Linked DNA regions of Homo sapiens. The protein of the gene in region 1 interacts with the protein of each later gene in a pairwise test. Each region holds a gene or a part of one and is shown on either strand. Other genes may lie near its edges. The genes, in order: DEF6, GOLGA6A, SLU7 and KIAA1328.

Region 1 (8,395 bases):
GCTAGGCATTGAGCCAGTGGCACCCCTTAGAGTGGGGATTGGTATTCTATGACCACAGATGTGTTAGGCAAGACTTTCCTGGAATTAGTGATAAAACCAAACTCAAATGGCTTAAGGGAGAGGGGATTTATTGGCTCACATAACCAAAAACTCCAGGGATAACTGCCCAGAGGGAAATGAGGGAAAAAAAGGAAATACTCCCTTCCTGGGATCTCCCACTTCCCAGTTTGCCAAGGAAAACTGAGCCCCAGGAGGACACTGAGGCAAAGTCTCAATACTTTCTCCCCCTCCTCTCTGAAAAGAGAATAAAATGAAGGCTTGGCACACACACCATCTCCGAGACAGTGCTAGCTCCTGCCTCCTAGGAACTGATTCCAAGGTGAACTGCTGGTGGTGGAAGAAGCCCTTCAATATAGCATGTATTGATTGCACTTGATGTACAAAAGAGGACATAGATGCTGAGGGACATAAAGATGAACAGAGACCTTGTCTCCAGAGTTCACAATCCAACGGAGGAGGGAGACTTGACATCAGTATTCTAGTAGGAAGGCAACCTGTGAACCAGGCACATTTAGTTTCAACCTCAGCTCTGCCATTTACTCTTAAAATTTCCAAACCTCTGTGTCTTCACCTGAAAAACAGGCTTAATAATATTTGCGTATATAGGTGATTGTGAAGACTAGAAATGGGGTATAAAAAGCGCTTTGACTGGGTGTAGTGGCTCATGCCTGAAATCCCAGCACTTTGGAAGGTCCAGATGTGAGGATCACTTGAGGCCAGCAGTTCAAGGCCAGCCTGGGCAACATATGCAGACCTCTGTCTCTACCGAAAAAAAAAAAAAAAGTTTTGGCCGGGCATGGTGCCTCAGGCCTGTAATCCCAGCACTTTGGGAGGCCGAGGTGGGCGGATCGCCTGAGGACAGGAGTTCGAGGCCAGCCTGGCCAACATGGTGAAACCCTGTCTCTACTAAAAATACAAAAATTAGCTGAATGTGATGGTGGGTGCCTGTAATCCCAGCTACTTAGGATGCTGAGGCAGGGGAATCACTTGAACCCAGGAGGTGGAGGTTGTAGTGAGCTGAGATCATGCCACTGCACTCCAACCTGGGTGACAGAGTAAGACTCCGTCTCAAAATAAAATAAAATAAAATAAAATAAAATAAAATAAAATAAAATAAAATAAAATAAATAAAATAATAAAATAAAATAAAATAAAATAAAAAACAGTTTTAATTAAATAAACCACCTCCTACAGTGACCGGCATATGGTAAGTGTGCAATAGTAACTAGTGACTTTTTAATCATTTACACTGCTTGTGACAAATGCTATAATAGAATTACCCCAAGGAGATTTTATTTTCACCAGATTTCAGATTTCAACCCCTTTATTCTAATATCATGGATTTGTTCAACAAACCCACATTTCCCCTGCACACCATTATGACCACTATCCCTTCTAAGCCTTGCCCTCTCCATGTCATGGACCATTTTTCATGACCCTTCTTTGAGCCCTCTCCTCTCCCAGAGCAGACACGCTTAGGTGATAGGCACACTGCAGCCAGGACACTGAGTCTTTGATGGAAACCATGATAAATTGGCAGCTTCTGCCCTGGGGTGGCAGACTAAGTCCCTGCAAACCCTGCAAACTGTCTAGCATTGTGGGAAGCACTTGGGCTTTGGAATCTGATGGAGATGGATTTGAACTCCAAGCTCTTGTTCAGTGTGGGTCTTTTGGCAAGTTACTGAATCCCTTGAGCCTCAGTCTCCCTGTCTGTAGAAAGAGGACACCAATACCTAATGAAGTGGCTAAGAGTATAACTGCATGGGTTTGAATTCCAGTTCTGCCAGCTGTGACCTTGGGTGAGAAATATCTCAGGGCTGCAGGAGTTTTCATTTGTAAAATGGGTATATGAGTAGTTGTTATGGTGGTTAAGCAAATGATATGTAAAGTACTTTAGCTCAGTGCTTGGCACATAGTATATAAGTTTTAGTTATTACTGAACTGAACAGTGTGTGTAGAGAACTCAGCCAGGATGGGGTGAGGACAAGCAGAGAGGTGGGGAGCAGTCCTCTGGCCCAGTTTTGGTTGGGGTGCAGAAAGACACACTGCCACTCTACTCTATCCCAGGTGCTGTCCCACAACCTGTACACGGTCCTGCACATCCCCCATGACCCCGTGGCCCTGGAGGAACACTTCCGAGATGATGATGACGGCCCTGTGTCCAGCCAGGGATACATGCCCTACCTCAACAAGTACATCCTGGACAAGGTGGGGCCCAGCTTGTAGGGAGCATCTGTAACCTCTCCCCACTTTTCCAGCCTGGCCAGCAGCCTAATACCTTGCCACTCCAACTCTTCGCCCCTGCCATAAACTCCTACTTCTGCCTGCTCTGTCCGTGACTGCTGTCCCATCACGTCCCTCACATCCCAGCCACCTGCCCCCTTCCTGTCCCCCTCAATTCACCTTCAATGTCCCTCATCTCTAATGAGGTGGGCCCCACCCTACCCATAACCTTCCACCGAATCCCTGCCCGGCCCTCCTCCAGCTTCCAGGGTTCTCCACCCTTCCCAGACTGTCCCCCTGAACTCCCCCTCCAACTCCTCCAATCTGTCACTGTGTTTCCAGGTTCTTGGCTCTTAGCTTCCTGCTGGGTTTCTCCTTCTTTGTCCTCTGGGCTGAAAGACTAGAGTTAATCTGTTGTCAGGGGGCCTGGGTGGGTGTGGGTGTGTTGTGGAGGGTGGAGTGGTTGGAACCAGCTAGTTACCTGGTAATCAGCTCAGGGATCCCTTGAGTTAGGGCCCTGGACTTGGCCAGGTGGGGAGCAGGGGCATAGATGAACCCAAGAAACCCAGCTGGAGCCTAGTGTCGTGGTAGAGCTGAGATATGCAGTCAGCTGATTTGCAGCCCTGGTGGCAGGTGGAGGAGGGGGCTTTTGTTAAAGAGCACTTTGATGAGCTGTGCTGGACGCTGACGGCCAAGAAGAACTATCGGGCAGATAGCAACGGGAACAGTATGCTCTCCAATCAGGATGCCTTCCGCCTCTGGTGCCTCTTCAACTTCCTGTCTGAGGACAAGTACCCTCTGATCATGGTTCCTGATGAGGTGAGGGTGATGGCAGCCCCAGGGACTGAATCACTTGGGACCAGACCTAAGCAAAACCATGAATGAGACCAAACCACCTTTGGTGCCTTCCCATATCCCCTTTCTTTCTTTACCATCTTCCCATGCTGGTATCTGTCCTCACCCAGCTGTCTCCAGATGCCTAGAACTGCCTGTGTCAGAGTAATTTTGCCTTCTTCCAGGAAAACTGAAATTACACTTTCATGAGGGTTCTGCTGGTCCTCACTGTAGGAAAATGATCTGCAAATTCTGTTTACACAGAGGTCTAAATGCCAGATACATTACTGAGCATTACTGGCAATCTAGGAAGGGTGCTTTTTTTTCCTTTACCTTTTGCCACTTCTTCCAGGACAGGAAGGATGCTTTACAAGGCAAGGGGAGACCTTTCTGAGACAGGAGGTTACTCTGGTTCCAGATTTTCCCTTTCTGCCTTTCTTCTGGAAAGCCAGGACAAACTCAGCTAAGAGACCCAGGGATAGGGCATCCTGGGAGAAAAGGCTGGGAATCTGGTCCCTATCTCCTTACTCCTGGGTGAAGCCAGGGAAGGCATTTTCCCATCCACCTGTACCCTCCCTCTTATCCTCACTTCCCTCCCCTGCCCATTTGGCCTTGTGACCCTTTAGTCCTCTTGGTGGCTGTGGAGATGCCAGGGTGACTTTAGGTCTTTAGAGTGGGGTTTACAGGAGAGGGGGCTTCTGTACTTACAAGAAGCCCTAGCATGTCAAGCTCCACTCACATTTGTCCTGGCTTCTGTTTGTGGGAAGGGTGATGAAGGGAACCACCCGAGCCCTGAACCAGTGCCCTCTACTAAACACCCAAACAAGACCCAGGATCCCCCAGAAAGTCCTAAACAGAGTGTCCCAAAAAGCTGCTGGGGCAGGTGAGGGACATGTGTCCATCTGCACATACACTTGGCTGGCTGCCCTTGTTAGACCCCTGCCAGTCAGGGCAAGGTGGCCTCGGAGGCCAGGAGGTTGTTTGCTTCTGCGATCAACATACAGAGTTAACAACTGCAGCAGGATGTACCCCAGCCACCACTTCCGGTTCCTCTGTAACAGGTTTCCTGTCCCTGCCCAGCTTACCTCTACTCCCCACTCCCCAACGCCTACCCCTACCCCAAATCCCCTTCCTCTCCCACAAGGGAAAGATCCCCAGGGTTGGGGATTGGGGCTTGGAATAAGGACCTGAATGGGATTCAGGAGATCAGAATCGGGTTCTGGCTGCCCCCAGTTTGCTGTGTGACTTAGAGCCAGTCACTTCCCCCTTTGGGCTTTTTTTTGGTCATCTGCAAAATGAGTGATTGGATGAGAGGGCCTTTGCACTCCCTTGACACTTTCTGTGATTTATTGCCTCTTTCTGGACCCCAGATCTCAGGTCCCCTTCACCTTGCCCTTAAGACAGGAAGGAGTGGGACTGGAGGTTGTGGACGGGGAGAGAAAACCTGAGTTGGGGTTGGGGCTCCAGGATCCTCTCCCAGGTCTTTTCCCTGGCTCCATAACATTCGGTCCTCTGGCCCCCTCAACGCTCTGTCCCCTGTTTCCCTCTGCCCAGGCTCTGGGAGCCAGATAGAGCACTCCCTGGTGTTGGTGCTGGCAACACCACCTGCTGCAGCTACCAGGCCTTCCTTCTCCTGCTCCAGGTGGAATACCTGCTGAAAAAGGTACTCAGCAGCATGAGCTTGGAGGTGAGCTTGGGTGAGCTGGAGGAGCTTCTGGCCCAGGAGGCCCAGGTGGCCCAGACCACCGGGGGGCTCAGCGTCTGGCAGTTCCTGGAGCTCTTCAATTCGGGCCGCTGCCTGCGGGGCGTGGGCCGGGACACCCTCAGCATGGCCATCCACGAGGTCTACCAGGAGCTCATCCAAGATGTCCTGAAGCAGGTCAGGCAAGCTGGGAACTAGGGGAAGCACACAAGGTGCAGGGCGAAGGGGGGCCTGGGAAGCCTCTGACGTAACTCCGGCTGGCAGGGCTACCTGTGGAAGCGAGGGCACCTGAGAAGGAACTGGGCCGAACGCTGGTTCCAGCTGCAGCCCAGCTGCCTCTGCTACTTTGGGAGTGAAGAGTGCAAAGAGAAAAGGGGCATTATCCCGCTGGATGCACACTGCTGCGTGGAGGTGAGGGGCAGGATGGGGGTGGAGGACATCTCAGGGCCCAGAGTGTCCTCAGGGGCATGAGAAGACAAGGGGGTCAGGAGAGGGGCAAATGGAGAAAAGCCACAGTGACACAAATTCCTGCTTAGATTAGTGTGACCCAAATATATCCGGATGCCTCAAGGCCATTCTCATCCACGTCAGCACTTAAAACTAAAACTGCAACTCAAGCACCAAAGTAATTGGTGAATAATATGGAATTTGCTCAAGATTTCAGAGGAAGTGGCTTATATCTATACTACACAGCAAATCTTTCTAAAAATCCCTTTTAAAGGTTTTTCTTCTTCACCCATATTCCATTCCCTTTAGCAACTCTGTACTTCCCTATTCTCCTTCCATACCCCTCTCCTCTGTCTTCCCCTTCTGTTTCCTCCCTTGTGTTCATCACTATTTTAGAGGCTTAAAACACAAGCGTCTTTACTATTTTAAATAATATGTATATATGTGTGTGTAACATGAAACTTCCCATTTTAACTATTTTAAGCGTACAATTCAGTGGCATTAAATACATTCATGAAATTAAAAAATTCTTTTGATATATAACAGATGTACATATTTTCAGGGTACATGTGATAATTTAATACATTCATATATTTTATAAAAATCAAATCATGTCATTAGGTATCCTTTACCTCAAATATTTCTTTATGCTAGAAACATTCAAATTATTCTCTTCTATTTTGAAATATACAATAGATTATTGTAAACTGTAGCCACCCTACTGATCTATTGAATCCTAGGTCTTATTTTTCCTGTCAAACTGTATGTTTATACCCATTCATCAACCTCTCTTTGTCCTCCCCCCACACTTCCTGGCCTCTGGTACCACTAATATACTCTCTATCTTCATGTGATCCACTTTTTTAGCTCCCACATGTAAGTGAGAACATGCGATAGTTGTTTTTCTGTGTTTGGCTTATTCACTTAACAAAATGACCTATGGTGCCATCTATGTTGTTGCAAATGACAAGATTTCATTCTTTTTATGGCTGAATAATATTATATATATCACATTTTCTTAATCTATTTATCCACTTCTGGGCACTTAGGTTGATTTCATATTTTGGCCATTATGAATATCTCTGCAGTAAACATGGGAAGGCAGATATCTCTTCAATATATTGGTTTACTTTCTTTTAGATATATACCCAGCAGTGGAACTTCTAGATCATATGATAGTTCTATTTTTAGTTTTTTGAGGAACCTTCATACAGTTTTCCATAGTAGCTGTACTAATTTATATTCCCACTAACAGTTTATCAGGGTTCCCCTTTCTCCACGTCTTCTCCAGCATCTTTTTACAGAAAAGATATTCTTGGCCAGGCGCAGTGGCTCATGCCTGTAATCCCAGCACTTTGGGAGGCCGAGGCTGGTGGATCACCTGAGGTTGGGAGTTTGAGACCAGCCTGGCCAACATGGTGAGACCCCATCTCTACTAAAAATACAAAAATCAGCCGGGCATGGTGGTGGGCGCCTGTAATCCCAGCTACTCAGGAGGCTGAGGCAGGAGAATCGCTTGAACCTGGAGATGGAGGTTGCAGTGAGTCAAGATTGCACCATTGCACTTCAGCCTGGGTGACAGGAGTGAAACTCTATCTCAAAAAAAAAAAAAAAAAAAAGATGTTCTCTATTTTTTTTGTAAAAAGCCATTTTAACTGGGATGAAATGATATCTCATTTAATTTTGATTTGCTTTTCTCTGATGATTAGTGACATTGAGCATTTTTTCATATCTCTGTTGACCATTTGTATGTCTTCTTTTGAGAAATATCTATTCAGATCTTTTGCCCATTTTTAAACTGGATTATTTGGTTTTTTGTTACAGAGTTGTTTGAGCTCCTTATATATTCTGGTTATTAATCCCTCGTCAGATTGATACTTTGCAAATATTTTCTCCTATTCTGTGGGTTGTCTCTTCACTTTGTTGATTGTTTCCATGGCTGTCCTGAAGCTTTTTAGCTTGACATAATCCCATTTTTCTATTTTTGGTTTGGTTGCCTATGCTTTTGAGGTCTTCCACAAAAAATCTCTTTGCCCAGACCAATGTCCTGGAATATTTCTCCAATGTTTTCTTCTAGTAGTTTCATAGTTTCAGGTCTTACATTTAAATGTTTAATCCATTTTTATTTGATTTTTTTATATGGTGAGAGATAGGGGTCTAGTTTCATTCATCTGCATGTGGTTATTTAGTTTTCCCAGAACCATTTATTGAAAGGACTGTTCTTTCCCCATTGTGTGTTCCTGGAGCCTTTGTCAAAAATGAGTTCTCTGTAAATGCATGGATTTATATCTAGGTTATCTATTCTGTTCCATTGGTCTTTGTGTCTCTTTTTATGCCAGTACTATGCTGATTTGGTTACTATAGCTTTGTACTACATTTTGTTTTTTTGTTTTATTTTAGAGACAGGATTTTTCTCTGGTGTCCAGGCTGGAGTGCAGTGGTATGATCATAGGTCACTGCAGCCTCAGTCTCCTTGGGCTCATGGGATCCTCCTGCTTCAGCCTCCTGAATAGCTGGGGCTATAGGTGTGTACCACCGTGGCCAGTTCGTAGTGTATTTTGAAGTCAGGAAATGTGATGCCTCCAGCTTCGTTCTTTTTACTCAGGCTTACTTTGGCTATTTGAGGTCTTTTGTAGTTCCGTATAAATTTTAGGATTTTTTTTCTATATCTATGAAGAATGCCTTTGCTATTTTGACAGAGATTGCACCAAATCTATAAATTGCTTTGGGTAATATTGTTATTTTAACAATATTAATTTTTCCAATACATAGCATGGGATATCTCTCCATTTTTTTGCATCCTCTTCAATTTATTTCATCAGTTTTATAGTTTTTCTTGTATAGATCTTTCACTTTGGTTACATCGATTCTTAGGTATTTTACATTCTTTGTAGCTGTTGGAAATGGGATTGCACTCAACTTCTTTTTCAGATTGTTTGCTGTTAGCGTATACAAATGCTACTGGGTTTTGTATGTTGAATTATCCTGCAACTTTACTGAATTCATTCATCAACTCTAACGGTTTTTTGTTGGAGTCCCTTTTTTTTTTTTTTTTTTTTTTGAGGAGGAGGAGGAGTCTTGCTTTTATCGCCCAGGCTGGAGTGCAATGGCACGATCTCAGCTCACTGC
Region 2 (4,589 bases), on another chromosome or scaffold:
ATGGTGGGAAGAAGGACATGAGATTTGAGGCTGGGGAAGGAGGTATGGGGTTCTAGGCAAGGGAGGAAGCCTCTTAGGCCTGGAGCAAGGGACCAGGGTCCTGGGCAGGTGACAGAGCCCCACGGTGCCCTCGCTACCCTATTAATGGGCCCAGAATCTGGAAGCCAGCCGCCATGTGCCCTCATGCCCAGGGTCTTCCTGCAGGTGGAGCTGAAGAGCCAAGAGTCTCAGAGTCTGCAGCAGCAGCGAGACTAGTACCTGGGTCACCTGCAGCAGTACATGGCCACCTATCAGCAGCTGACCTCTGAGAAGGAGGCGCTGCACAGGCAGTTACTGCTGCAGACCCAGTTCGTGGACCAGCTGCAGCAGCAGGAAGCTTGGGGCAAAGCGGTGGCTGAGATGGCCGGACAAAAGTTGCAGGAGACCCAGGGGAGGGAGTTGCTGAGGACGGGGCCCCGAGGGGGATGACCTGGCAACCTCCGTGCCTTCTCACTCTGTTTCCCGTCCCCTTAGGAGCACCTAGAAGCTGCCAGCCACCAGAACCAACAGCTAGAGACCCAGCTAAGCCTCGTGGCTCTCCCTGGAGAAGGTACAGGAGACCACTCAGAGGAAGAGGAGAGAGCCCCAGGAGGAAGGGGGGACTGTTAGCAGCATAGGATTGAGGGGTTGGAAGAGACCTTTAGAACAGCTGGTCGTTATGCCAACCGGGTGTCCGCACTAAGTTCAGCATCAATATGGTGACCTCCTGGGAGCAGGGGGCCACCAGGTTGCCTAAGGATGAATGAACTGGACCAGATCAGAAAGGGAGCAGGTCAGGACTCCCGCACCGACCGGTAGTGGGACTGTGCCTGGGCAATATAGCAAGATCTTGGTTCTTAAAAGGAAAAATAAAGAACAGCAGCTCACTCCCCTCTGGGGAGAGGCTGGCTCAGGGTTACACAGTCAGGGTGGGGACAGAGGTGGGCCCACAGTACCTCCCTTGTTGGGTTGTCTGAGGACCCCTCTGGCCACCTCCCTACAGGAGATGGAGGACAACATCTGGACAGTGAGGAGGAGGAGGCGCCTCGGCCCACGCCAAACATCCCAGAGGACCTGGAGAGCCGGGAGGCCACGGTGAGCCTGACTTTCCCTGCCCCGCTTTGCCACCTTCCTCTGTGGTCCCTCCCAGACCCCCTTATGCTCTTGGTTTTCCCACCTTCTGATTGCTCTGGCCCCTCACCCCTTCCGGGAGCCAGTGGTCAGACACTTTGTCACCTGTGACCAACAGGTGCACTCTCTGAGGCCCCAAGGGAAGGGGTTGTTCTCCACCTCCCTGCCTCATTTGTTCTGTCTATGCCCCTACAAGAATACTCACCTCTTGCCTTCAAGTGGCATTTTTCACCTCTGCTGGAGCCAGTTCCCAGGAGGAGCAGGCACGGCTATGTGGGCAGCGGAAGGTGTGAAGGCTGTGCTGCCTGCACCTGGCTCATCTGTTGGCCTTCGCCTGGAAGGAGCCAGAGGCAGAGGCCCCAGCCCCAGGGAGTGGGGGTGAGTTTGTGTGTGGGGAGAGCTACCGGGCCCTGAAGGAGGCCATGGTGAAGCTGAAAGGGAGTGAGTCCTGGCATGGGCCAAGAAAAGTGGGGGCGGGGCAGAACAGGTCACTCCCGAGATGTGACCCCATTATTTTGGCTCCAGAGCAGCTTTATGGACCTCCCGAAGGAGAAGGCGGACGGGACGGAGCAGGTGGAGAGACGAGAGCTTGGATTCGTCCAGCCTTCTGGAGTGACAGACGGCATGAGTGAGCGGGAGGCCAGGGCACGGGCACGGGGAGCTGCAGGGCCGTCGGAGGGACCCTAGTGTCTGAGCTGTGTCCTCTCACAGGAGAGTCCTTCACCGTATATGAAAGCCAGGGGGCAGTGCCAAACACGCGGCACCAGGAGATGGAGGATGTCATCAGGCTGGCCCAGAAGGAGGAGGAGATGAAGGTAGGGCGTGCAACATCTCTGCGGGGTTGGGGGTGGGCATGGGCGCTGGTGCAGGCTCCAGGGTGGGAGCTGAGCACCCCTCCCTTCAGGTGAAGCTGCTGGAGCTGCAAGAGTTGGTGTTGCCCCTTGTGGGCAACCATGAGGGGCATGGCAAATTCCTCATCGCTGCCCAGAACCCTGCTGATGAGCCCACTCCAGGGGCCCCAGCCCCCCAGGAACTTGGGGCTGCCGGTGAGCAGGATGGTGAGTAGAGCTCTCAGGCGGGGTGGGCAGGCAGGGGCAGGGGAGGCTCGCACTGTGCTCAGACCCCCGCCTCCCTCTCTCCGAAGTTTTTTATGAAGTGAGCCTGGACAACAACGTGGAGCCTGCACCAGGAGCGGCCAGGGAGGGTTCTCCCCATGACAACCCCACTGTACAGCAGATCGTGCAGCTGTCTCCTGTCATGCAGGACACCTAGGAGCACCCAGGCTTGCCCAGCAAACCCTGCGTGCCATTCTTCTACCAGGCAGCCGAGAACAGGGAGATAAACATCATCATCTTCTAAGAGCTGGTCAAGAAATTTAAAACAACAACAACAACAAAAAGTTACGGGGTTCATCTCCTACACAATTCATTTACTCCATTTGAATGCTAGAGCCACTCACATTTATTTGTGTTTCTAATTTACCGTTTAAATTTATTTGTAAAAAGTTAAGGGAGAGTTGGTCTTTCCCTGATGTTCTTTCTGGCATCCTTTAGCATTTTTATTTTTAATTTGATAATTGTAGGTCATTAGTATGCATATCGAGTTTGCCCTTAGGTGGTGGGAATTCAAACACACAAAGACCCACTAATTTGCACAAAACTATTCTGGCTGGTTTGGAACAGGCTGCCATGCTTTTTTAATGTTATTGCAGCATGTATATTCATTCCAGAATTCAGATAAAATGTGCTTATGTTCTGCTATTACGTTTGATCGAATCCTAACCACAGTGAGCTCTTCATTAGCTCAATATGTGGTTTGCCCTCAATTGAGCACTGTTTATTACTTTGTAATATGCCACTGTGAGTACTGACATTTAGAGTTGTTTAAAGGCCAAGAACTGGAAACAGCCTTTTCCCTATTTTCTGTGTATTGGGGATGGGAGTAATAACATTTTGGGGAGCTTTTTAAATCTCACAGAAGAGGAAAGTGGCCTGCTCTGGCAGGTGTGTGCAGGATAGAGTGTGTTTCATTTGTTCTGGTGCCAAGAATGAGCGCTGTACTATGGTAGTTCCCTTAGGATTTGTATGTGCTCTGGGCTCATGAAGATATTGCATCATGAGCTGCAGCAGTTGTACCCTTTCTTGATGACCTAAAAAGGGATTATTTCTGAGGAATGAAAGGCTCCCATCATTGACTGTGGATGTGGAAAACCTTTTCTAGCTTAGAGCATTTATATCTACAATACATTTTAAAGTCAGAGTTCATGTTACCTGTTTTAATCACGAGTATATGTCCCAGTACACAAAAGGGCACTGGTTGGCATTCTTCTTAAGGTATTTAGTGAAGATCATAAGAAATCCTTTAAGAGTTTAAATGTCCCTGGAAGAGGCATACAGGCTCTAGTCAAGAATGAATTCGAGTGAAGGAAAGCTGTGTGACACCTGGCCTTCCTCTATGTTCATGGAGCTTCTTTGAGGCTAGAAGATTGATTTTATCATCTAGACCTCTCTGGCTAATACCTATTCTTCAGCCACATTAGTTACTCTGACATAGGAATTTACTTCTTTTCTTTGAATGGAAAACACTTTAAAAATAATAACAACCATTATTATAAACCAATATATGTGAGAGTACTTAGTTGAAACAAAAAGGAGTTTTAGTAGACAGTATTATACTACACATGAAAATCAAGGCGAAGTTTATGCAACTTAAAATGTTTACAAGCTGCAGTGCAATCTAATGTTTGTGAATGTCCAAGTATTATGAGAAAAAGTGTCTATACAATGACAGACTTATGTTTCCTCACAAAGTTCTTCACAAAGAGTGAAATATGTTTTTATACCTCTCAGTTTCAGTTAGAGGCATATTTTGTGCCATATTTATGTTAATGTGCCTATACGTGATGAGTGAATTATTTCAGTCATACATTGCCTAAATCATAACTTTAAGATGCTTGGGAAAGAATCAACAGCTAAAAGTTCATGAAGTTCTAATGTCTGTGTTCCAAAATACGTCACAGTATTAGGATGCAGGGAGAGATGTGTGTGCGCTCCCTGGGGTGGGCATTTCTAGTTACTAGACCATCTCCATTTTTAGCATTTGGCATCCTCATGATACTTTTATACATATGACATTAATAGGAGAGCAATAATACGATTTTACAGATGGAATAACAGATGTGCCTGCATTCAGTGAAAGAGTGCAAATATTAAGTCCTTGTGACTTCAACTGACTCTTCCAAATTGTATGAATTTATCAATGTATTAGATAAACTCAGTTCCAGAATTATAAAGAAAAACTGTTAGACCAACGAATGTGGCTAATTAACAGTAGGACGATTTCTAGCCCGAGGGTTTAAAATGGACTTCAAGTCCTGTTCTTGCCTTTTATTTTCTGAACTTGCCACTTTTGCATTCTTTGAGTTCAGTTTAAAGACAGTT
Region 3 (8,395 bases), on another chromosome or scaffold:
ACTTAATGTAAAGGGACGGATGGTGTTGTCTTTCATTAAGATAGGGAAGAGTAGGAGATTAGATTTCAGAGGGAAGATCATGAGATTGAATTAAGACGTATTGAGTTTAAATGCCTCTGGCCTCTAAGTGGAGATGTCAAGTAAGCAATTGGATATATGTATCTGAAGCTCAGATAAAAAGTCTTGAATAGAAAAATACGTTGTTCCTTTATTATTTTTTATTTTATAGAAAAATAAGTTGGAGAGCCAGCAGTGTTGTATTGTGACCATTGAAGCCTTGGAAGTAAATGAGCTTATCCATTAGTGGGAGTTTAGAGTGGCTTAAAAGGTGCTGACTGAGCCTTGAGGAATCCAACATTAAATAACTGGGCAAAATTTGATGACAAGAGAGGTACAAGAAAAACCAAGAGGGCCAGGCACAGTGGCTCACGCCTGTAATCCCAGCACTTTGGGAGGCCAAGGTGGGCAGATGGCCTGGGGTCAGGAGTTTGAGAGCAGCCTGGCCAGTGTGGTGAAATCCTGTCACTACAAAAAATACGAAAAAATTAGCCGGGCATGGTGGCGGGCACCTGTAATCGAGCTACTCGGGAGACTGAGGCAGGAGAATCGCTTGAACCTGGGAGGCGGAGGTTGCAGTGAGCTGAGATCATGCCACTGCACTCCAGCCTGGGCAACAGAGCGAGACTCTGTCTCTAAAAAAAAAAGAAAAAGAAAAACCAAGAGAATGTAGTGTCAGGGAAGTCAAGACATAATATATAAAAAGGGAAGGAACAGAGCTGAAAAATGTCCATTGGATTTAGCACAATGGTCCTTGATGACTTAATGATGTAACTCTTTTCTTTAGAATGGTAGGGAATGGAGGGCTAAGTTAGAGTGAGTGAGGATGAAAATAGAAGGTGAGGAAATGGAGGCAGTGAATATAGATAACTCTTGAGATATTCATTCTTGAAGGGGTACAGAGATAGGACCCTCTTTTCTCTCATTAAGAGTTACTGTGTTAGAAAAGTTTGAGACATACACAGAAAGAGGGATTAAGGATGGATATGAGAAAAGAGTCCTGTGAAATTTTAAATACACGTGTGTGTCTCTCTCCATTTGTAAATTGGAGTTGAGAGAGAAACAGTGCTAACAGTATGTAGAGACCTTGAGGAGGGGGAAGAGACCCTTCCTTACACATAATATAGGAGAAAAAAAAACATATGAAACAGTATATATTATTAGGATGTATTTTTGGTAGTTTGAGTGAATTCATGAAGGCCTACTTTTTACTGTAAGTTTCACTTCTTTTCCTAGAGGAGGCCAGATAACCATGTCAGCCACAGTTGTAGATGCAGTTAATGCTGCACCCCTATCGGGGTCCAAAGAAATGAGTTTGGAAGAACCAAAGAAGATGACCAGAGAGGACTGGAGAAAGAAGAAGGAGCTAGAAGAACAGCGAAAATTGGGCAATGCTCCTGCAGAAGTTGATGAAGAAGGAAAGTAAGTACTTAATTTTTTGTATGATCCATTCATTCAGAATTCAAATTCATGTCTACTTAGTTTATTAATTTTTCATCCTTTGAGAGGAACCTCTCTTCATTTATGTCATTTTTGTTTTTTATTTTATCAAACTCATATGCATATGGTTTAATAATGAAATTATGTTGAAGGGCTTATAATGAATAGCAACAGTCCTTTTTTACCGTTCCCACCCCTGGCCTGCTCTACAGAAGTGACTGCTATGAAATCTTTCTATTTTGAGTTTTTCTGGTTGTTACCGTCACATCTCTAGATAATAATACCTACACAATTATTTTAATTAATTGACTATAGACATTATTTGAACCAAAACTTCTTGTGATAGAAGATTTAGATTACTAACACACATCTCTATTTTCCTTCCTCTCTTGTCCCCCTTCAGTTATATCACTATTCTTAGTTTCTTAGTTGGAAATATTTTCACTCTAAAATAAATTACTTCTTTATTTTTAATTATTCTTTATTATAGTATAGAGATAGCAACCTTGTTCTCTTCCCCCTACCACTGCAATATTTCTGTTCTTAGATTTTGTATAAGCTACCTTTGTAATTGTAATACTGATTATTTTCCAATTTTATCCTTAAATTTTTTTTTTTTTTACTTTAATTACAGAGACATCAACCCCCATATTCCTCAGTATATTTCTTCAGTGCCATGGTATATTGATCCTTCAAAAAGACCTACTTTAAAACACCAGAGACCACAACCAGAAAAACAAAAGCAGTTCAGCTCATCTGGAGAATGGTACAAGAGGGGTGTAAAAGAGGTATGTAGGCAACCTGTATACATCTTCATGGATATGGAGAGTTTAAGAACTTAATGTAAGAATTTTTAATGCAATACTATTTAAAGTAGAAACAGATAATAAAACCCTTTATCTGGTATTGAAATTCACAGTGCATTACTATTTTATCTTTGTGTTTCTTATATAAATTTTACACTCCTGAACTCTTTAAAGTTTCACATTTATAAATGTGTGGAGACTCTAACTTATTTTCCTTTTAACAAAGAAATCATTTCCCTAGACAAAATAGTAATGAGAGTCAAAGTTATTTCTAACTTACGTGGTTAAGACATTTTTGTTTTTCTTTATATATATTTATAGAATTCCATAATTACTAAGTACCGCAAAGGAGCATGTGAAAATTGTGGGGCCATGACACACAAAAAGAAAGACTGCTTTGAGGTAAGTTCACCTTTGAAAATTTTGAAAACCGTTGTCAGAGTCTTTCTTTTTTCTTTGTCAGAGAGCTAACTTCTCTTTTTCTGAAATCACCTATATTTAGGTACAAGTTAAATAAAAATTAGTTTCAGTGGAATTGGTTCAACACCAACAAAATTTTCTACTGTAAGACTAACTGTAAATTGAATAGATCGTAAAGTGCCCACTCTGTAAAAGTTGTATGAAGTTTTCCTTTGGGCCATAAAAACTTAGGAAAAGATTAAATCTTACTCTGTTTTTAGAGACCTAGGCGAGTTGGAGCCAAATTTACAGGTACTAATATAGCTCCAGATGAACATGTCCAGCCTCAACTGATGTTTGACTATGATGGGAAGAGGGATCGGTGGAATGGCTACAATCCAGAAGAACACATGAAAATTGTTGAAGAGTATGCCAAAGTTGATTTGGTGAGCAAAATTCCCTGCTTTCCTGGGGTTTTTAAAGAATCGTCCTTTTGCTGTATCTCTAGCAGCTCTACTTTTCAAATCTTGAAGCACTTTAAAAATGGTAGCATTTTTATAATAGTAGTACTACTGTATAGGCTACCTTTATAATTGTAATATTGAGTAAAGGAAATAGTGTGCTAGCCATACTTGCCAGCAGTTTCTTCTTATTTGATTCTTATATTGGTCCTTTACTCCCTGACTTAGGTAGCAAAAGATATTGGAAGCATGAAGACAGATTAGTGTCCAAAGCTTTTGGTTTTGTGAGGTTAGAAATGTATGGCCCCAAGCTATAGCTTGCCCATGAACCTATTTTATAGTTGCCTCCCATAGCATTTGGGAGTAGTAGAAAGGGAATGGATAATTTGTTTCAGAAAATTTTATTTTATTTTAACCCAACTTCAGTTTTTACTGTTATGATTTGACCTATTCACCCTTATTCCTTTGAAGTCATAGTCACACTGCCTTTTTTTTTTAATTAGAGGTATCATTTTAAAATTATAAGATTTCATATAAAAATCTGGATTTCATCTTTTCTTGAATATTGTAATATATGGTAACCCCACGCCTGCCTGGTAAGAGTCAGTCATCTAGAGTTCTGTGGCAACTGCTTGTTTTTGTCAGGGCTTGCTCCCTGCAATTTACTACTGATGCCATTTGGCTCAGTTTACATTAATGCCTGGTTCAAACACTGTGTAACTCCTGCTCTTTATAGAGTAATAGGTCTAGGGCTACAAGGAATCCCAAAGAGATAGGTTTGTTCAGTGACCTTTTCTGAAATAAATTAATTTAAAGTTATTCATTTTAAATATATAAAAATTTAGGTGGTGACTTGAATGTTGTAAGTAAAATTTAAATGTTTACTTTTTCTTTCTTTCTTTCTTTTTTTTTTTTTTAAAGGCAAAACGAACATTGAAAGCCCAGAAACTCCAAGAGGAATTAGCCTCAGGAAAATTAGTGGAACAGGCTGTAAGTAATGAAAATGATCAATAAAAAGGTTTTATTTCTTTTAAACAAAGAAATGAAAATTGAAACAAGAATTCATTTTATAGCTCTTCAGTTAGGAAGAGAGAAATGCTATTGGGGGAAAAATAAAACTGATACTTTGTATACAGTTCATAGTAATATAAATTGATGCAGTCAGTTTGGGAACAATATTGCCACTATTTATATTTAGACACACACAAACATTTACTTTTTCAAGTTAAATTATTAAAGCTATCCATCCTAAAGAATTTTCTAGAGTTTAGAAAAATCATGATGCATAAAGATAGTACAGCATTTTTCACAATAGTAAAGAAATTGGAATAGCTTAAATGTCCAGGAACAGGGAATTGGTTAAGTGCATCTGCATGGTGTAATGCTGTGTAGTTCTTAAAATGGCATTTCTCAAGACTTCATTAACAACACTGGTTAACACTTGTATTTGAATAATACATGAAAAGATAGTATAATATTATCACACAGAAAAAAAGACCAGAACACTAGTTTTTATTTAATGTAGAATTTATGAATTTTTCTTTCTATTTCTTTAGTATTTTCTGCATTTCCCACAATGAATATGTATTAGTTATATAACTGGGCAAAACATTTTTTATATGAATGAAAGGTCTATTGCAGCCAGTTTTTTTTTCTTTTTTAAAAATCCTTGTCAATAGAGTAAATATATTATGCATATTAGAGTTGTCAAGTTTCTTTTTAACAAATCTAGGCACAAATAAATAGTAAACATTTATAGTTTTTTAGTTTAAATTTCTAAAAGGGACTCTAAACCATGTATAAGTAACAAAGCAAACAGAACTTGAAATAATTACCAAGTAAGCAGTTACCGAGTTACTAAGGTAACCTACCAGGCAAGTTAACATTGTAAGTTACCAGATAGGTGTTTAAAATCCATCTCTGGCCGAGCACAATGGCTCACACCTGTAATCCCAGCACTTTGGGAGGCCGAGGCAGGTGGATCATCTGAGGTCAGGAGTTCGAGACTAGCCTGGCTAACATGGTGAAACCTCATCTTTACTAAAAATACAAAAATTAGCTGGGTGTGGTGGCGAGCACCTGTAGTCCCAGCTACTCGGGAGAATCGCTTGAACCCAGGAGGCAGAGGTTGCAGTGAGCCGAGATCACGTCACTGTGCTCTAGCTTGGATGACAGAGCGAGACTCTATCTCAATCAATCAGTCAATCAGTCAATCAATAACAAAATCCATCTCTGCTCCATGAGACATACATGCTCTTAGAAAAGTGAATTTGCCGGCCGGGCGCGGTGGCTGACGCCTATAATCCGAGCACTTTGGGAGGCCAAGGCGGGTGGATCCCAAGGTCAGGAGATCGAGACCATCCTGGCTAACACGGTGAAACCCCGTCTCTACTAAAAAATACAAAAAATTAGCCAGTCGCGGTGGCGGGCGCCTGTAGTCCCAGCTACTCGGGAGGCTGAGGCAGGAGAATGGGTGAACCCAGGAGGCAGAGCTTGCAGTGAGCCAAGATCATGCCGCTGCACTCCAGCCTGGGCGACAGAGTGAGACTCCGTCTCAAAAAAAAAAAAAAGTGAATTTGCCTCTCTGAGCTGCAGTTTAGTATGTCTGAAATAGAAATGATAACACCTACCCCCAGGAAGCTTATATACATATCACATAGTAAACACTGGGTAATTAGTAGCTATTATTGTTGTGATTATTTTTATTTATTACTAACTTTGGGAAAAGAAAAAGGGCCTGTTTCTTTTGTTCTAATGTATTCTCTGTTGTTTGTTGTAAACGTAATGTAATTTATTTCCCCAGTAAGGATACTTAATGTATGTAAGGGGCTAATGATTTTTGCCCACTTGGATGCTTGGATTATTTTTTTTTTATATACTTTAAGTTTTAGGGTACATGTGCACAACGTGCAGGTTTGTTACGTATGTATACATGTGCCATGTTGGTGTGCTGCACCCATGAACTCGTCATTTAGCATTAGGTATATCTCCTAATGCTATCTCTCCCCGCTCCCAGGATGCTTGGATATTAAGATGAACCACATACAGTAGATTTAGAGACTTAGCTGTCACTATAGAAATGTATGTAAATGTCTTTGGTGAACTAGCAAATAGTGGGAACTCAAAAAAATTATTTTTTACAAAATATTTATATTTCTAATTTTGAAAGTAACACATATTAAGTGGAAAAAAATTAGAACATAATATAAAAAAGAAAATATCCCTGTGTTAATTGTGAACATTTTGAAGTAGGCCTTTCCAGGTCTCTCTTGTCCACATATACCTGTTCATGTGTGCTAGAATACAAAATGTTTCTTACATGAATCCATCTTTATATATTCATTTATTACCTTCTTTTTTAATTTAACAACATAGAGTACAGTGGGAACGTGTTTTCTGTCTATATTTATAGACCTATAGCATCATTTATTTTTGTATGAATTCACATGGCTCAAAAATTAAAACAATTTAAGAAGATGCACAGCGAAGTCTCTCCACCCCTGTTTCTATCCACCCTAACACTAAACTTCCCCTCGCCCCAACTCTTTTGTGTATGTGTGTGGCTCCTTTCAGACTGTCTTGAATAAATACAAATACAAATATATACCCTTATCCTATCTGTCTCTCCCCTCCCCTTTTTTTAATCAAAAAAGTTAGGAAACGATACATACTTTTCTGCCCCTTGGATAGAATCACTTTTAATGGCCGTTCAGTGTTCCATGGAGTGCAATACATTATATAACCAGTGATCTATTAATTTGATTTTTTCCCAGTGTTTTGAAAAAACATTGCACATATACAACACTGCACATCACATTCTTATACATCTTTATATAATTGACATGATACTAGGATAACCTTCTAGAAGTGTATTTCAGTGAGTTTGTATTTCTAAAATTTTTATGACATATCACTTAGCCATCATTCAGAAAAGCCATGCAGATTTATGCTTCCATCTATATAGTATATATACATACACGTGTTTCTGCATCTCCTCACTAATGCTATAATGTATTCTCTTTTTTTTTAAGTATTTTTAATCTTTGAAGCCTTTATGAAGGGACATGATGAAATACCACGTTAGTGTAGGCATTCTGTGGAGTTAGAAAGTATTCTGACCAATTGCTAGCGAAGAAAAGTGTATCCTTGTGACAAGGAGTTTGGCCTCTCCTTAAATTACAATACTGTGTCACTTGTAGATTTTTTTCATTGCCCAAACTTCACTTTGGCTGTGAAGACATGAACCCAGTAATATTTTCTTTTTGGACTTACTAGGAAACTAGTAACGTTTAATGAATACAGTATGTCTGAAGACTAACACATTTAGAAATTAATATTTATTGGGTACTTTGGACATCTTAATCTTTCTGTTACCATTTTGTGGTTATAATCTTAATTAAAATTCTCTTGAAATTTGCTGGCTTTATAGACAGTGTAATAAAATTATTTACAATGGCACTCTTGTATTCAGAATTTTTGCGCTCATTATAACTGAGAAGTGTGAGAGTTTGTTCAGTTAGAATTAAGTTTTATTATCTTAATACTTATTTATAAGTTACATATTATATATTATATAATAAATATTTATTATATATAATATAAATATAATATATAATAAAATATATTTTATTATATAAATATATTATTTATAATAAGATAATAATACTTTATTATCTTAATAATAAAGTTAATTGGATTAAGTGGAATGAGATTATGAATGATTTTTCTTCTTTCATGATGCAGAATTCTCCAAAACACCAGTGGGGAGAAGAGGAACCAAATTCTCAGATGGTAATACATATTTGCTGTCTCTGAGTATATGTTAAATTTTTAAATTTCTGATGGCTAATAATAAATAACACTAATAATAGCTTTTAAAGAACACAAGTAAATAAGGGTTTGGTTAAAGGGAAAGGGGAAAAAAAAGAACTACATGCTGCTTTCTTTTCTTCTTACTTTTCCTTCCTCTCCCTCTTTTAGGAAAAAGATCATAATAGTGAAGATGAGGATGAAGATAAATATGCAGATGATATTGACATGCCTGGACAGAATTTTGACTCCAAGAGACGAATTACTGTCCGGAATCTCAGGATTCGAGAAGATATTGCAAAAGTAAGTCTTGTCAGCTTAACATACATATTTGAAAAATACTTGTCTTCCCAGCATAAATTTTATCGACTCTGGGTAGCATATGGATAATATAGTCAGAGTCATTCTAAGATAAGGTTTCAT
Region 4 (8,427 bases), on another chromosome or scaffold:
AAACTATTTTTTCCCATTGAGAAGTCTTAACATATTTGTCAAAAATCAATGAATCAGGCCGGGCACGGTGGCTCACACCTGTAATCCCAGCACTTTGGGAGGCCGAGGCAGGTGGATCATGAGGTCAGGAGATCGAGACCATCCTGGCTAACATGGTGAAACCCTGTCTCTACTAAAAATACAAAAAATTAGCCAGGCGTGGTGGTGGGCGCCTGGAGTCCCAGCTGCCCGGGAGGATGAGGCAGGAGAATGGCTAGAACCCGGGAGGCGGAGCTTGCAGCGAGTGAAGAGCACACCACTGCACTCCAGCCTGGGCGACAGAGCGAGACTCCGTCTCCAAAAAAAAAAAAAAAAAAAAAATCAATGAATCATAAATATGATGTTTATTTTTGGACTCTCAATCTTATTTCATTGATCTACATTTCTAGTTTTATGCCACTACCACTCTGAAGACAACTGTGGCTTTAAATTTTTTAAATTGTATTAAAATACACATAACATAAAATCATCATTTTAGTCAATTTTAAGTGTACAGTTAAGTGGCATAAAGTACATTCACACTGTTGTACAACCATCACCAGAACTTTTCCATCATCTCAAATATAGTATAGGGAAATGTGAGTAAGAGGAACTTTTTTCCTGTTTTGGAAAGAAAAGTTTATCTTGGCTACTCTGGGTCTCTTGCATTTCTATATTATATTTTAGGATTAAATTAGCTTCCTGATTTCTACAAAAGAGACAGTTGAGATTTTGATGGGAACTGGAGATGTGAGATTTGTAGATCAATTTGGGGAGTAACAGATTTTAACAATATTAACTCTTCCAATCCATAAACATGGTATGTCTTCTCATTTATTTTGGTCTTCTTTAATTTCTTTCCACAGTCTTATGTAATTTTCAGTACATAAGTCATGGACATCTTGTGTTAATTTATTCCTATTTTATTCTTTTATTTTTTTTGAGATAGGGTCTCACTCTTGTTGCCCGGGCTGGAGTGCTGTGGTGTGATCACAGGTCACTGTAGCCTCGAACTCCTGGGCTCAAGCAATCCTCCTATCTCAGCCTCCTGAGTAGCTAGGACTAAGGCATGCACCACCACACATGGCTAATTTTAAAATATTTCATAAAGGCTATGTTGCCCAGGCTGGTCTGCAACTCCTGGTCTCAAGCAATCCTCTCACCTTGGCCTCCCAGTGTTGGGATTACAGGTGTGAGCCACTGTGCCAGCTACATTTTATTCTTTTCAATACTATTGTAAATTGAATTGTTCTTAGTTTTATTTTTGGATTGTTCATTGCTGGTGTATAGGCTGTGTGTGTGTGTGTGTGTGTGTGTGTGTGTGTGTGTGGATTCCTTAGGATTTTTTATATACAAGATCATGTCATCTGCAAACAGATAGCTTACCTTCTTCCTTTTCAATTGGATGTCTTTATTTCATTTTCTTGCCTAATTGCCCTAGCTAGAAACTCCAGTACAATGTTGAAGAGAAGTGATAAAAGTGGAATTCTTGCCATGCAGAAAAGAGTGAACATAGCAGGCCCGAGACAATAATCCTCAGAAAGGTCTGCCAATCGGGCTGCCAAAATCCTTTTGTTGTAATGAATCATAGCCATGAGTAGGACTATCTCCTGAGTCCTGTAATCCTTGCGTCAAATCATTGAATCTGGTGTGATCTTGGGGAACCCTAATACAATTTTTGTTCCTGATTTTAAGGGGAAAGCTGCCAGTCTTTCACCATTACATATGATGTTAGATGTGGGTTTTTCATAGATGTCCTTCATCAGGTTGAGGAAATTCTATCTCTATCCCATCCTATTTCTAGTTTGTTGAGTTTTTTTTAATCAAGAAAGGTTAGATTTTGTCAAATGCTTTTTTTATTAAGATGATTATGCAGTTTTTGTCTTATTCTATTAGTAAGTTGTATTATATTAATTGATTTTTTTTAAGTTTCTTTTTTTTTAGTGACAGGGTCTTGCTATGTTGTCCAGCTGGACTTGAACTGGGCTCTAATAACCCTCCCACCACAGCCTCCCCAGTAGCTGGAACTAAAGACATGGGCCACCATGCCCAGCTATTAATTGATTTTCATATGTTAAAACCACTCATTCCTAAATCACACTTGGTCTTGGACTTCTATTAAAAGAGACACAAATTTTAAAAATCAACCAAACAAATACATAATTTCAAGTAGTGAAAGTGCTATAAGAATAAAAGAAAAAGCAGGGTAAGGAAAGAGAGAGCAAGAAAGACGGCGGTTATTCGAACTATATTCAGGGAAGGTTTCTCTGAAATAATGACATTTGATCAGAGATCTGAATGACCTGAAGAAGCGAGACATTCAGAGAAAGATAATTCCAGGTGCAAGGACTAGCAAACTGCAAAAGCCCTGAAGCAGGAACCCGCTTAGTGTGTTTAAGGTACAGCTAGAAGGCCATGTGGGCAAGAGTGGAAACAAAGTCAGAAAGAGATGAGAGCAGATCTTACAGGGACTTGTGGGTCATGGTACAGACATTTGGATTTTATTATAATTGTGATGGGAAGGCACTGAAGCATGCTTTTCAGCCTTCTTAAAAGACCTTTCTCCTCCTTAGTTTTCTGGCTAACTCCTATATGTCTTTCAAAATCTAGCATCATCTCCTCTGTGACATGTTCTTTAACTTCCCTGGTAAGATCAGTCCCCTCCTCTGTGACATCTCTGAGTAACAGATTACTGACCTCTTTTCACACTCCTAGTGACCTCATTTGTTTATTTTTTTCACAGAACTGTGTCTTTTTCATATTTTTAACCTCACGTCTAACATAGTGGTGAGTACTAAAGAAACGTTTGATAGGCCAGGCGCGGTGGCTCACGCCTGTAATTCCAGCACTTTGGGAGGTCGAGGCGGGTGGATCACCTGAGGTCAGGAGTTCGAGACCAGCCTGGCCAACATGGTGGAACCCTGTCTCTACTAAAAATACAAAAAAATAGCTGGGCGAGGCAGGAGAATTGCTTGAACCCAGGAGGCGCAGGTTGCAGTGAGCCGAGATCGCGCCATTGCACTCCAGCCTGGGCAACAAGAGCAAAACTCTGTCTCAAAATACAAACAAGCAAGCAAACAAAGAAATGTTCGATAAAAGAAAAACTCTGAGTCATTCAGTGGTGCAAGGTTGGATTCCTTTCAGACCCGACGTAGTTGTCGCCCTGGGAGGTCGGGTGCATTACTTCCCCCAGAGAAAGGTCTTGGGTTTCGGGGATAATGCCCTGGCTGAGAATGCCTCCTAGGGGGAGATCCAACTTCCCAACCGTCAGGTGCTTGCTGTGTTCCCTTTGCACGTCTCTGCCCGTCCTTCCTGGGTGGGACCTTGGTTGGCGGTGAGTGGGGGAAACTTCAGGCTTCCCAGCTCTGCCTCCGAACACTCCTGGCAAACACTTTCAAGGCCTAATCACAAACCCAGGTCCCCCACTTTCCTCTGTAACAACGGAAGTCCCAGCAGCGATGTCCACTCCTGTTCTGGGGCCAGCGTCGCACCGCTCACCCCGCACCTCATCCCTCCGCTCCTCCTTCCTTCTCCTCCACACCCTCTCGGCACCGTGCCCCCTTTCCTCACCTAGGATGCGCGTGATGCCCAGGGTCAGCTTCTCCAGGTGCGGCTTGCTGCAGCCCAGCCCCGGGGACGATGCCTCCTCCTCCATGGCTCGCGACCGCGATTCGCGCGCGGCGGGAGCGGGTGGAGGGCCGGACCCCGCCTCAGCGCCGAGGCCAATTTCATGGCATGCCGGGAACGGTAGTTCTCGGCGCCTGAAAGCGCGGCGCAGTGATGATGGGGGCCCGGGGTTGGTCTGACAGCAGCAGCTCCGTGGGGCGCCGGTTCCCGCGGCCCCGCCCGGTGCCCCACACCGCACCTCCGGGACGTAGCTTCCCCTTCGCCCCCACCCTCTCGCCCCGCAGGGGCCGGCCGCGCAGGCGGGGGCGGGCCTCTGCGTGGTGCGGCCAATGGGGACCGAGCCTGCAGGCCGAGGCGTGGCGGCCCAGGCGCGACGCCCCGAGTGGCGGTTGTTTCAAGATGGCGGACGTGGCGGGCCCCTCCCGCCCCAGTGCCGCGGCGTTCTGGAGCCGGGACTGTATCCTTTGCCCGCCTGACAGGGGGCGCCGGCGCCCTCCACGGGACGGCGAGGGGCGAGCCGTCGCGTGGCAGTCCGAGAGCGGAGGAGAAGCTCCGAACTAACCCCGGGGATGGGGACGTGCTGCTCGGCCCCAGTCTAGGTGCTGGGCTCTCCCCTTGCTTGGGTGTTAGGTGGCCGAGAGACTGGTACTGTCTGCAGGTGTGGGGACACGGCTCAGATGCTTCCCAGCGCTCACTACCGGTGAGCTCGAGAAAGATAGCCTTGAGTCCAGGCTCAGTCCAGGGCTGAGATGGCCCTCCGAGGTCCCTCTGCCCACCCTGTCAGAGTGCCCCCAGGCTGACTTGAGTGTGCGGAGCTAGCTCGAAGTTGAGGGAGGAGTCGGTGTTGGCTGGACAGGGAGCCTTTTTGTTTTGATTTAGGATTGTCTTTAGTCTGCATTGCTAGGAGCAAGTCAGGACCTTTCGGACTTAAAAGGCCCTCCAGTGATGATGTATTTTAATACTGGGGTTTTAGGAGAGGTGTGGAGCTTGGTTACTGGGATGTGGTCTGGTGGTGCTGGTTACTGCGTAAGATGGGAATCATTGTGCCTGGAAGTATTGTTGACTTACTTGTGGAGTGCGGGTCACTGGCAGTCATTGAAGTTCTTGGATCGTTGTGAGGTGGAGAAGCAGTGGAACTTTTTAGTCCAGTGGTAGTATTACCAGTTCAGCAGCAGTGATGAGATGTTTGTGTGACAGGAGTGTTTCTTTCCTTGGAGTAGGTAGACTCTTCTCGCTTGAGCTTTGGTCCTGATAATTTACTTCACGTTCCTTAGAGGGGTTACTTGAAAGAGGGACGGCAATCTGTGTTACTGAGTGCTTGCAGAGGCAGCTCTTTTTGTGTTTGCTAGGATTGGTGATGGCATTAATTGAGGCGTTGCTGTTACCTTTGGCAGAATCACTGGGCATTCTTCTTAGCTCCCAGTGAAACTTACAAAACTGTGTTATCAACTCCTTTGTTGAGTTACTAGGATTAGTGTCATGTGTAGAGAGAGGGATATGTTTGTATTCTGTGCTGCTCGTGTTTAGTGTTTGCACTTACTAGACATAATTACCATTTGTCTCTGATAGGTTGGTGAAAAGCAAATGAAATCATGTACATACACTGTGGATGAAAGCATACTAGTGCAGTGTGCAAATTAAATATTTTTTCCTTTACCTTTCAGAAGAGAATATGTGCACTGTGGACAACTGGGCTGAATTAGGAAGTTAGGAAATTGGGATAAGTCTTTTCTCAAGAAACACTGCTTCTGCATTGACATAATTTTGTGATGGAGGAGATACTTGAAGGTTATTAGCTTATAGCATCCTATGGTACTGTTCAAATATAGAATCAATGGTTTGGGGGGGGGACAAGCTATTGCAATGGGACTGAATAAGTGTATTAATAGATATATGGACTGAACCTAAGCTCTTGGTCTTCGCACCCAGTACTTTCACTTACTCATGTAGTTATATCACCCCCTATTTTATGTAGAAGTCATATATACTCCGTTATCTCTTGTATTCTGACTCCCAACATTTAATGTAAAATATTCGTCCTCTCATAGATAGTGAGGAATTGAAATTGTACAGGGGAAAAATGGTGGCGATTATATCCTATAAGATCTAATTCAGATGTATGAAAGGAATTGCAAAGTTGCTAGTGTCACCTTTCCCCTCAGACTATTCCACGTAATGACCAGTTAACATCGAGCCTCAGATATTTTCATTTTAAATCTCCATAGAGAATGTCACTGTAAGCAATGTCAAATGTAAATTTGTTACTGAATATTTGCTGAAAAGCATAATGATAGTTATTAATCATTTGATTTAGTTACATGTCTTTGCATCTTGATTCCTTTGTCATATTGATTATTTCCCAGACCACCCTAGAGCCTTTATAGTAGAATTTTCAATAGAAAAAGACCAAAAAGTAAGTACCTATAATCTGGTATTCTTTTCACACTATTGAAAAAAGATTTTCAATACTTCACCTAAACATTTAGAGAAATGTGATGGAGAGATTTCTTAGTCCTTGATGTTTCCATCATGAGAGGACAGATCATCTGTGACTCAATGGCACCTTTTTTTTTTATTGTTGTTGTTGTGAGTTATACATCTCCTGCACAGTATGATTCAGCAGTGCTGTTTTGCACAAGGAACGTTTTAGTACCTCATCTGTAAACAATGAGTGTGTGGTGTTGTCATGTTATGGGTTAAATCTTCCAGCAAAATATGCTCCTTCAGTTTAAGTTGCCTTTGTCCTTCATTACAGTTCCTAGTAATGTCAGAATGAGTTAGTGTTTCAGCAGTACCTAAATTTGACTGCTTAAATGCACTCAAGTGTATTACCATTAGCAATATCATGGACTTGATATTAAAAAATATGAACTGCAAGTGACCTGGTCAAAACATTGCAGTATAATCTCTGCTGTTGAGTTTTCAAATGGAAACAAAGACTGTATGTTGTGGTAAAAATAATATATTAGCCCAGAAAGTCTCTGTGGTTGATAATAATTACATATACATGTATTGCTGGCAAAACTCAGCAGATTAGAGTAGAATGGGCAGTACTGAACTTATTTCCTTCAAATCCTGGAGGTCTGGGATAGAGGTGCATCTTCCTCTCTACCACTTCTGCCTGGGTTTCTAATTACAGTTAGCCCTCTGTATCTGCTGATTCATTCAAATGTGGATGGAAAATATTTGAGAAAAAAAAGAAATAGCACACAAAAAAATACAAATTAAACTGTACAATTTAACTACTATTTATATAGCATGTACATTGTTTTAGGTATTATAAATAATCTAGAAATGACCCACTAGTAGGCCCACTATACATTTGGTATATAATGTGTCTGTTTGACTTCCCCATAAAATATACATTTGTTGGGAAATTCTAGATTTGAAGGAGGTAAATATTTGGGTTCTTAATATAATGAGATGAAAATACATTACAAATTATTAGAAAGGATAGAGGCAATTTCAAATATTGTTATTAAAAATATTGAAGTAGTTTGTTTAGAGTTTTATATATTTGAAAATAAATTTGTCATGGATGTAGCTGAAAGTAAAAGGTTTTGTTGGCCGCTTGCGGTGGCTCACACCTGTAATCCCAGCATTTTGGGAGGCCAAAGCAGGTGGATCACAAGGTCAGGAGTTCAAAACCAGTCTGGCCAACATGATGAAACGGCCGTCTCTACTAAAACTACAAAAAAAATTAGCCAGGTGTGGCGGCGGGCACCTGTAATCCCAGCTACTCGGGAGGCTGAGGCAGAGAATTGCTTGACCTAGGAGGTGGAGGTTGCAGTGAGCTGAGATCAAACCGCTGCACTCCAGCCTGGGTGGCAGAGCGAGACTCTGTCTCAAAAAAAAAAAAAAAAAAAAGTTTTGTTTGCATATTTAGAATCACAGAAATATAACATATAAGGTTGTTGGACAACACCTCATAAAATTAAATCAATACCAATTTTATTCTTTCATAGATGGAGCCAGACATTCTTTTATGTTTGAGGGTACAACACTGAACAAAATAAAACAAAAATCATTACCCTCTTGGTGCCTACATTTTAGTGAGATGAGATCAGGTCATGAATAAGGAAAATATATGTTCAATGATTTTTTTTTTTTTTTTTGAGTCAGAGTCTCGGTCTGTTGCCCAGGCTGGAGTGCAGTGGTGCCATCTCAGCTCACTGCAAGCTCCGCCTTCTGGGTTCACACCATTCTCCTGCCTCAACCTCTGGAGTAGCTGGGACTACAGGCACCCGCCACCATGCCCGGCTAATTTTTTTTTTTTACATTTTTAGTAGAGACAGGGTTTCACCGTGTTAGCCAGGATGATCTCGATTTTCTGACCTCGTGATATGCCCACCTCGGCCTCCCAAAGTGCTGGGATTACAGACGTGAGCCACTGCACCTGGCCTATGTTCAATGATATTGGTGCTGTGGAGAAAAAATAAAGCAGGAAAGAGGCAGATAGTAGCGGGAGGTAGGTAGGTTGTGGGAAGAGAGAGTTTTGCAATTTCAAGTACCTATATGGTTAGGAAGTGAAAGCTTCAATCAGAAGGTGACATGACATGACATATGACATAAGTCCTAAAGTGAGCCATGAAGATATTTGAGGAAAGAGCTTCCTGGGTAGAAGAAATCATACCTGCAGAAGCTATAAGGTAGGAGCTTGCATAGCTTGTTAACAATTATAAGAAAGCCAGGAATGAGTGAGAGGAATAGTAGCAAGTGAGATCAGAGATGTAACAAGTTACAGGGATCAGATCTTGAGCATTGCAGGCTGTTGTTAATACT

Evidence for each region.
Region 2: the proteins of DEF6 (region 1) and GOLGA6A interact in binary tests that used the Homo sapiens proteins (3 or more experiments, as listed by UniProt).
Region 3: the proteins of DEF6 (region 1) and SLU7 interact in binary tests that used the Homo sapiens proteins (3 or more experiments, as listed by UniProt).
Region 4: the proteins of DEF6 (region 1) and KIAA1328 interact in binary tests that used the Homo sapiens proteins (3 or more experiments, as listed by UniProt).

What each region holds. Positions count from the first base shown.
Region 1 is NC_000006.12:35,307,543-35,315,937, forward strand, and holds part of DEF6 (differentially expressed in FDCP 6 homolog), read left to right. Parts: intron 1-2,127; coding exon 2,128-2,268; intron 2,269-2,916; coding exon 2,917-3,102; intron 3,103-4,671; coding exon of another isoform or gene 4,672-4,759; coding exon 4,760-4,996; intron 4,997-5,083; coding exon 5,084-5,230; intron 5,231-8,395.
Region 2 is NC_000015.10:74,068,742-74,073,330, reverse strand, and holds the end of GOLGA6A (golgin subfamily A member 6A), read left to right. Parts: intron 1-513; coding exon 514-589; intron 590-1,021; coding exon 1,022-1,113; intron 1,114-1,674; coding exon 1,675-1,777; intron 1,778-1,860; coding exon 1,861-1,964; intron 1,965-2,053; coding exon 2,054-2,207; intron 2,208-2,293; coding exon 2,294-2,421; 3' UTR 2,422-3,474; downstream 3,475-4,589.
Region 3 is NC_000005.10:160,408,209-160,416,603, reverse strand, and holds part of SLU7 (pre-mRNA-splicing factor SLU7), read left to right. Parts: intron 1-1,293; coding exon of another isoform or gene 1,294-1,309; coding exon 1,310-1,479; intron 1,480-2,131; coding exon 2,132-2,285; intron 2,286-2,624; coding exon 2,625-2,705; intron 2,706-2,983; coding exon 2,984-3,148; intron 3,149-4,084; coding exon 4,085-4,153; intron 4,154-7,906; coding exon 7,907-7,954; intron 7,955-8,143; coding exon 8,144-8,275; intron 8,276-8,395. UniProt on the Homo sapiens protein: Required for pre-mRNA splicing as component of the spliceosome. Participates in the second catalytic step of pre-mRNA splicing, when the free hydroxyl group of exon I attacks the 3'-splice site to generate spliced mRNA and the excised lariat intron.
Region 4 is NC_000018.10:36,825,095-36,833,521, forward strand, and holds the start of KIAA1328 (protein hinderin), read left to right. Parts: upstream 1-4,032; 5' UTR 4,033-4,044; coding exon 4,045-4,102; exon of another isoform or gene 4,103-6,058; intron 6,059-6,072; exon of another isoform or gene 6,073-8,294; intron 8,295-8,427. Other genes in the region: TPGS2 (tubulin polyglutamylase complex subunit 2), read right to left, coding at 3,589-3,673. UniProt on the Homo sapiens protein: Competes with SMC1 for binding to SMC3. May affect the availability of SMC3 to engage in the formation of multimeric protein complexes.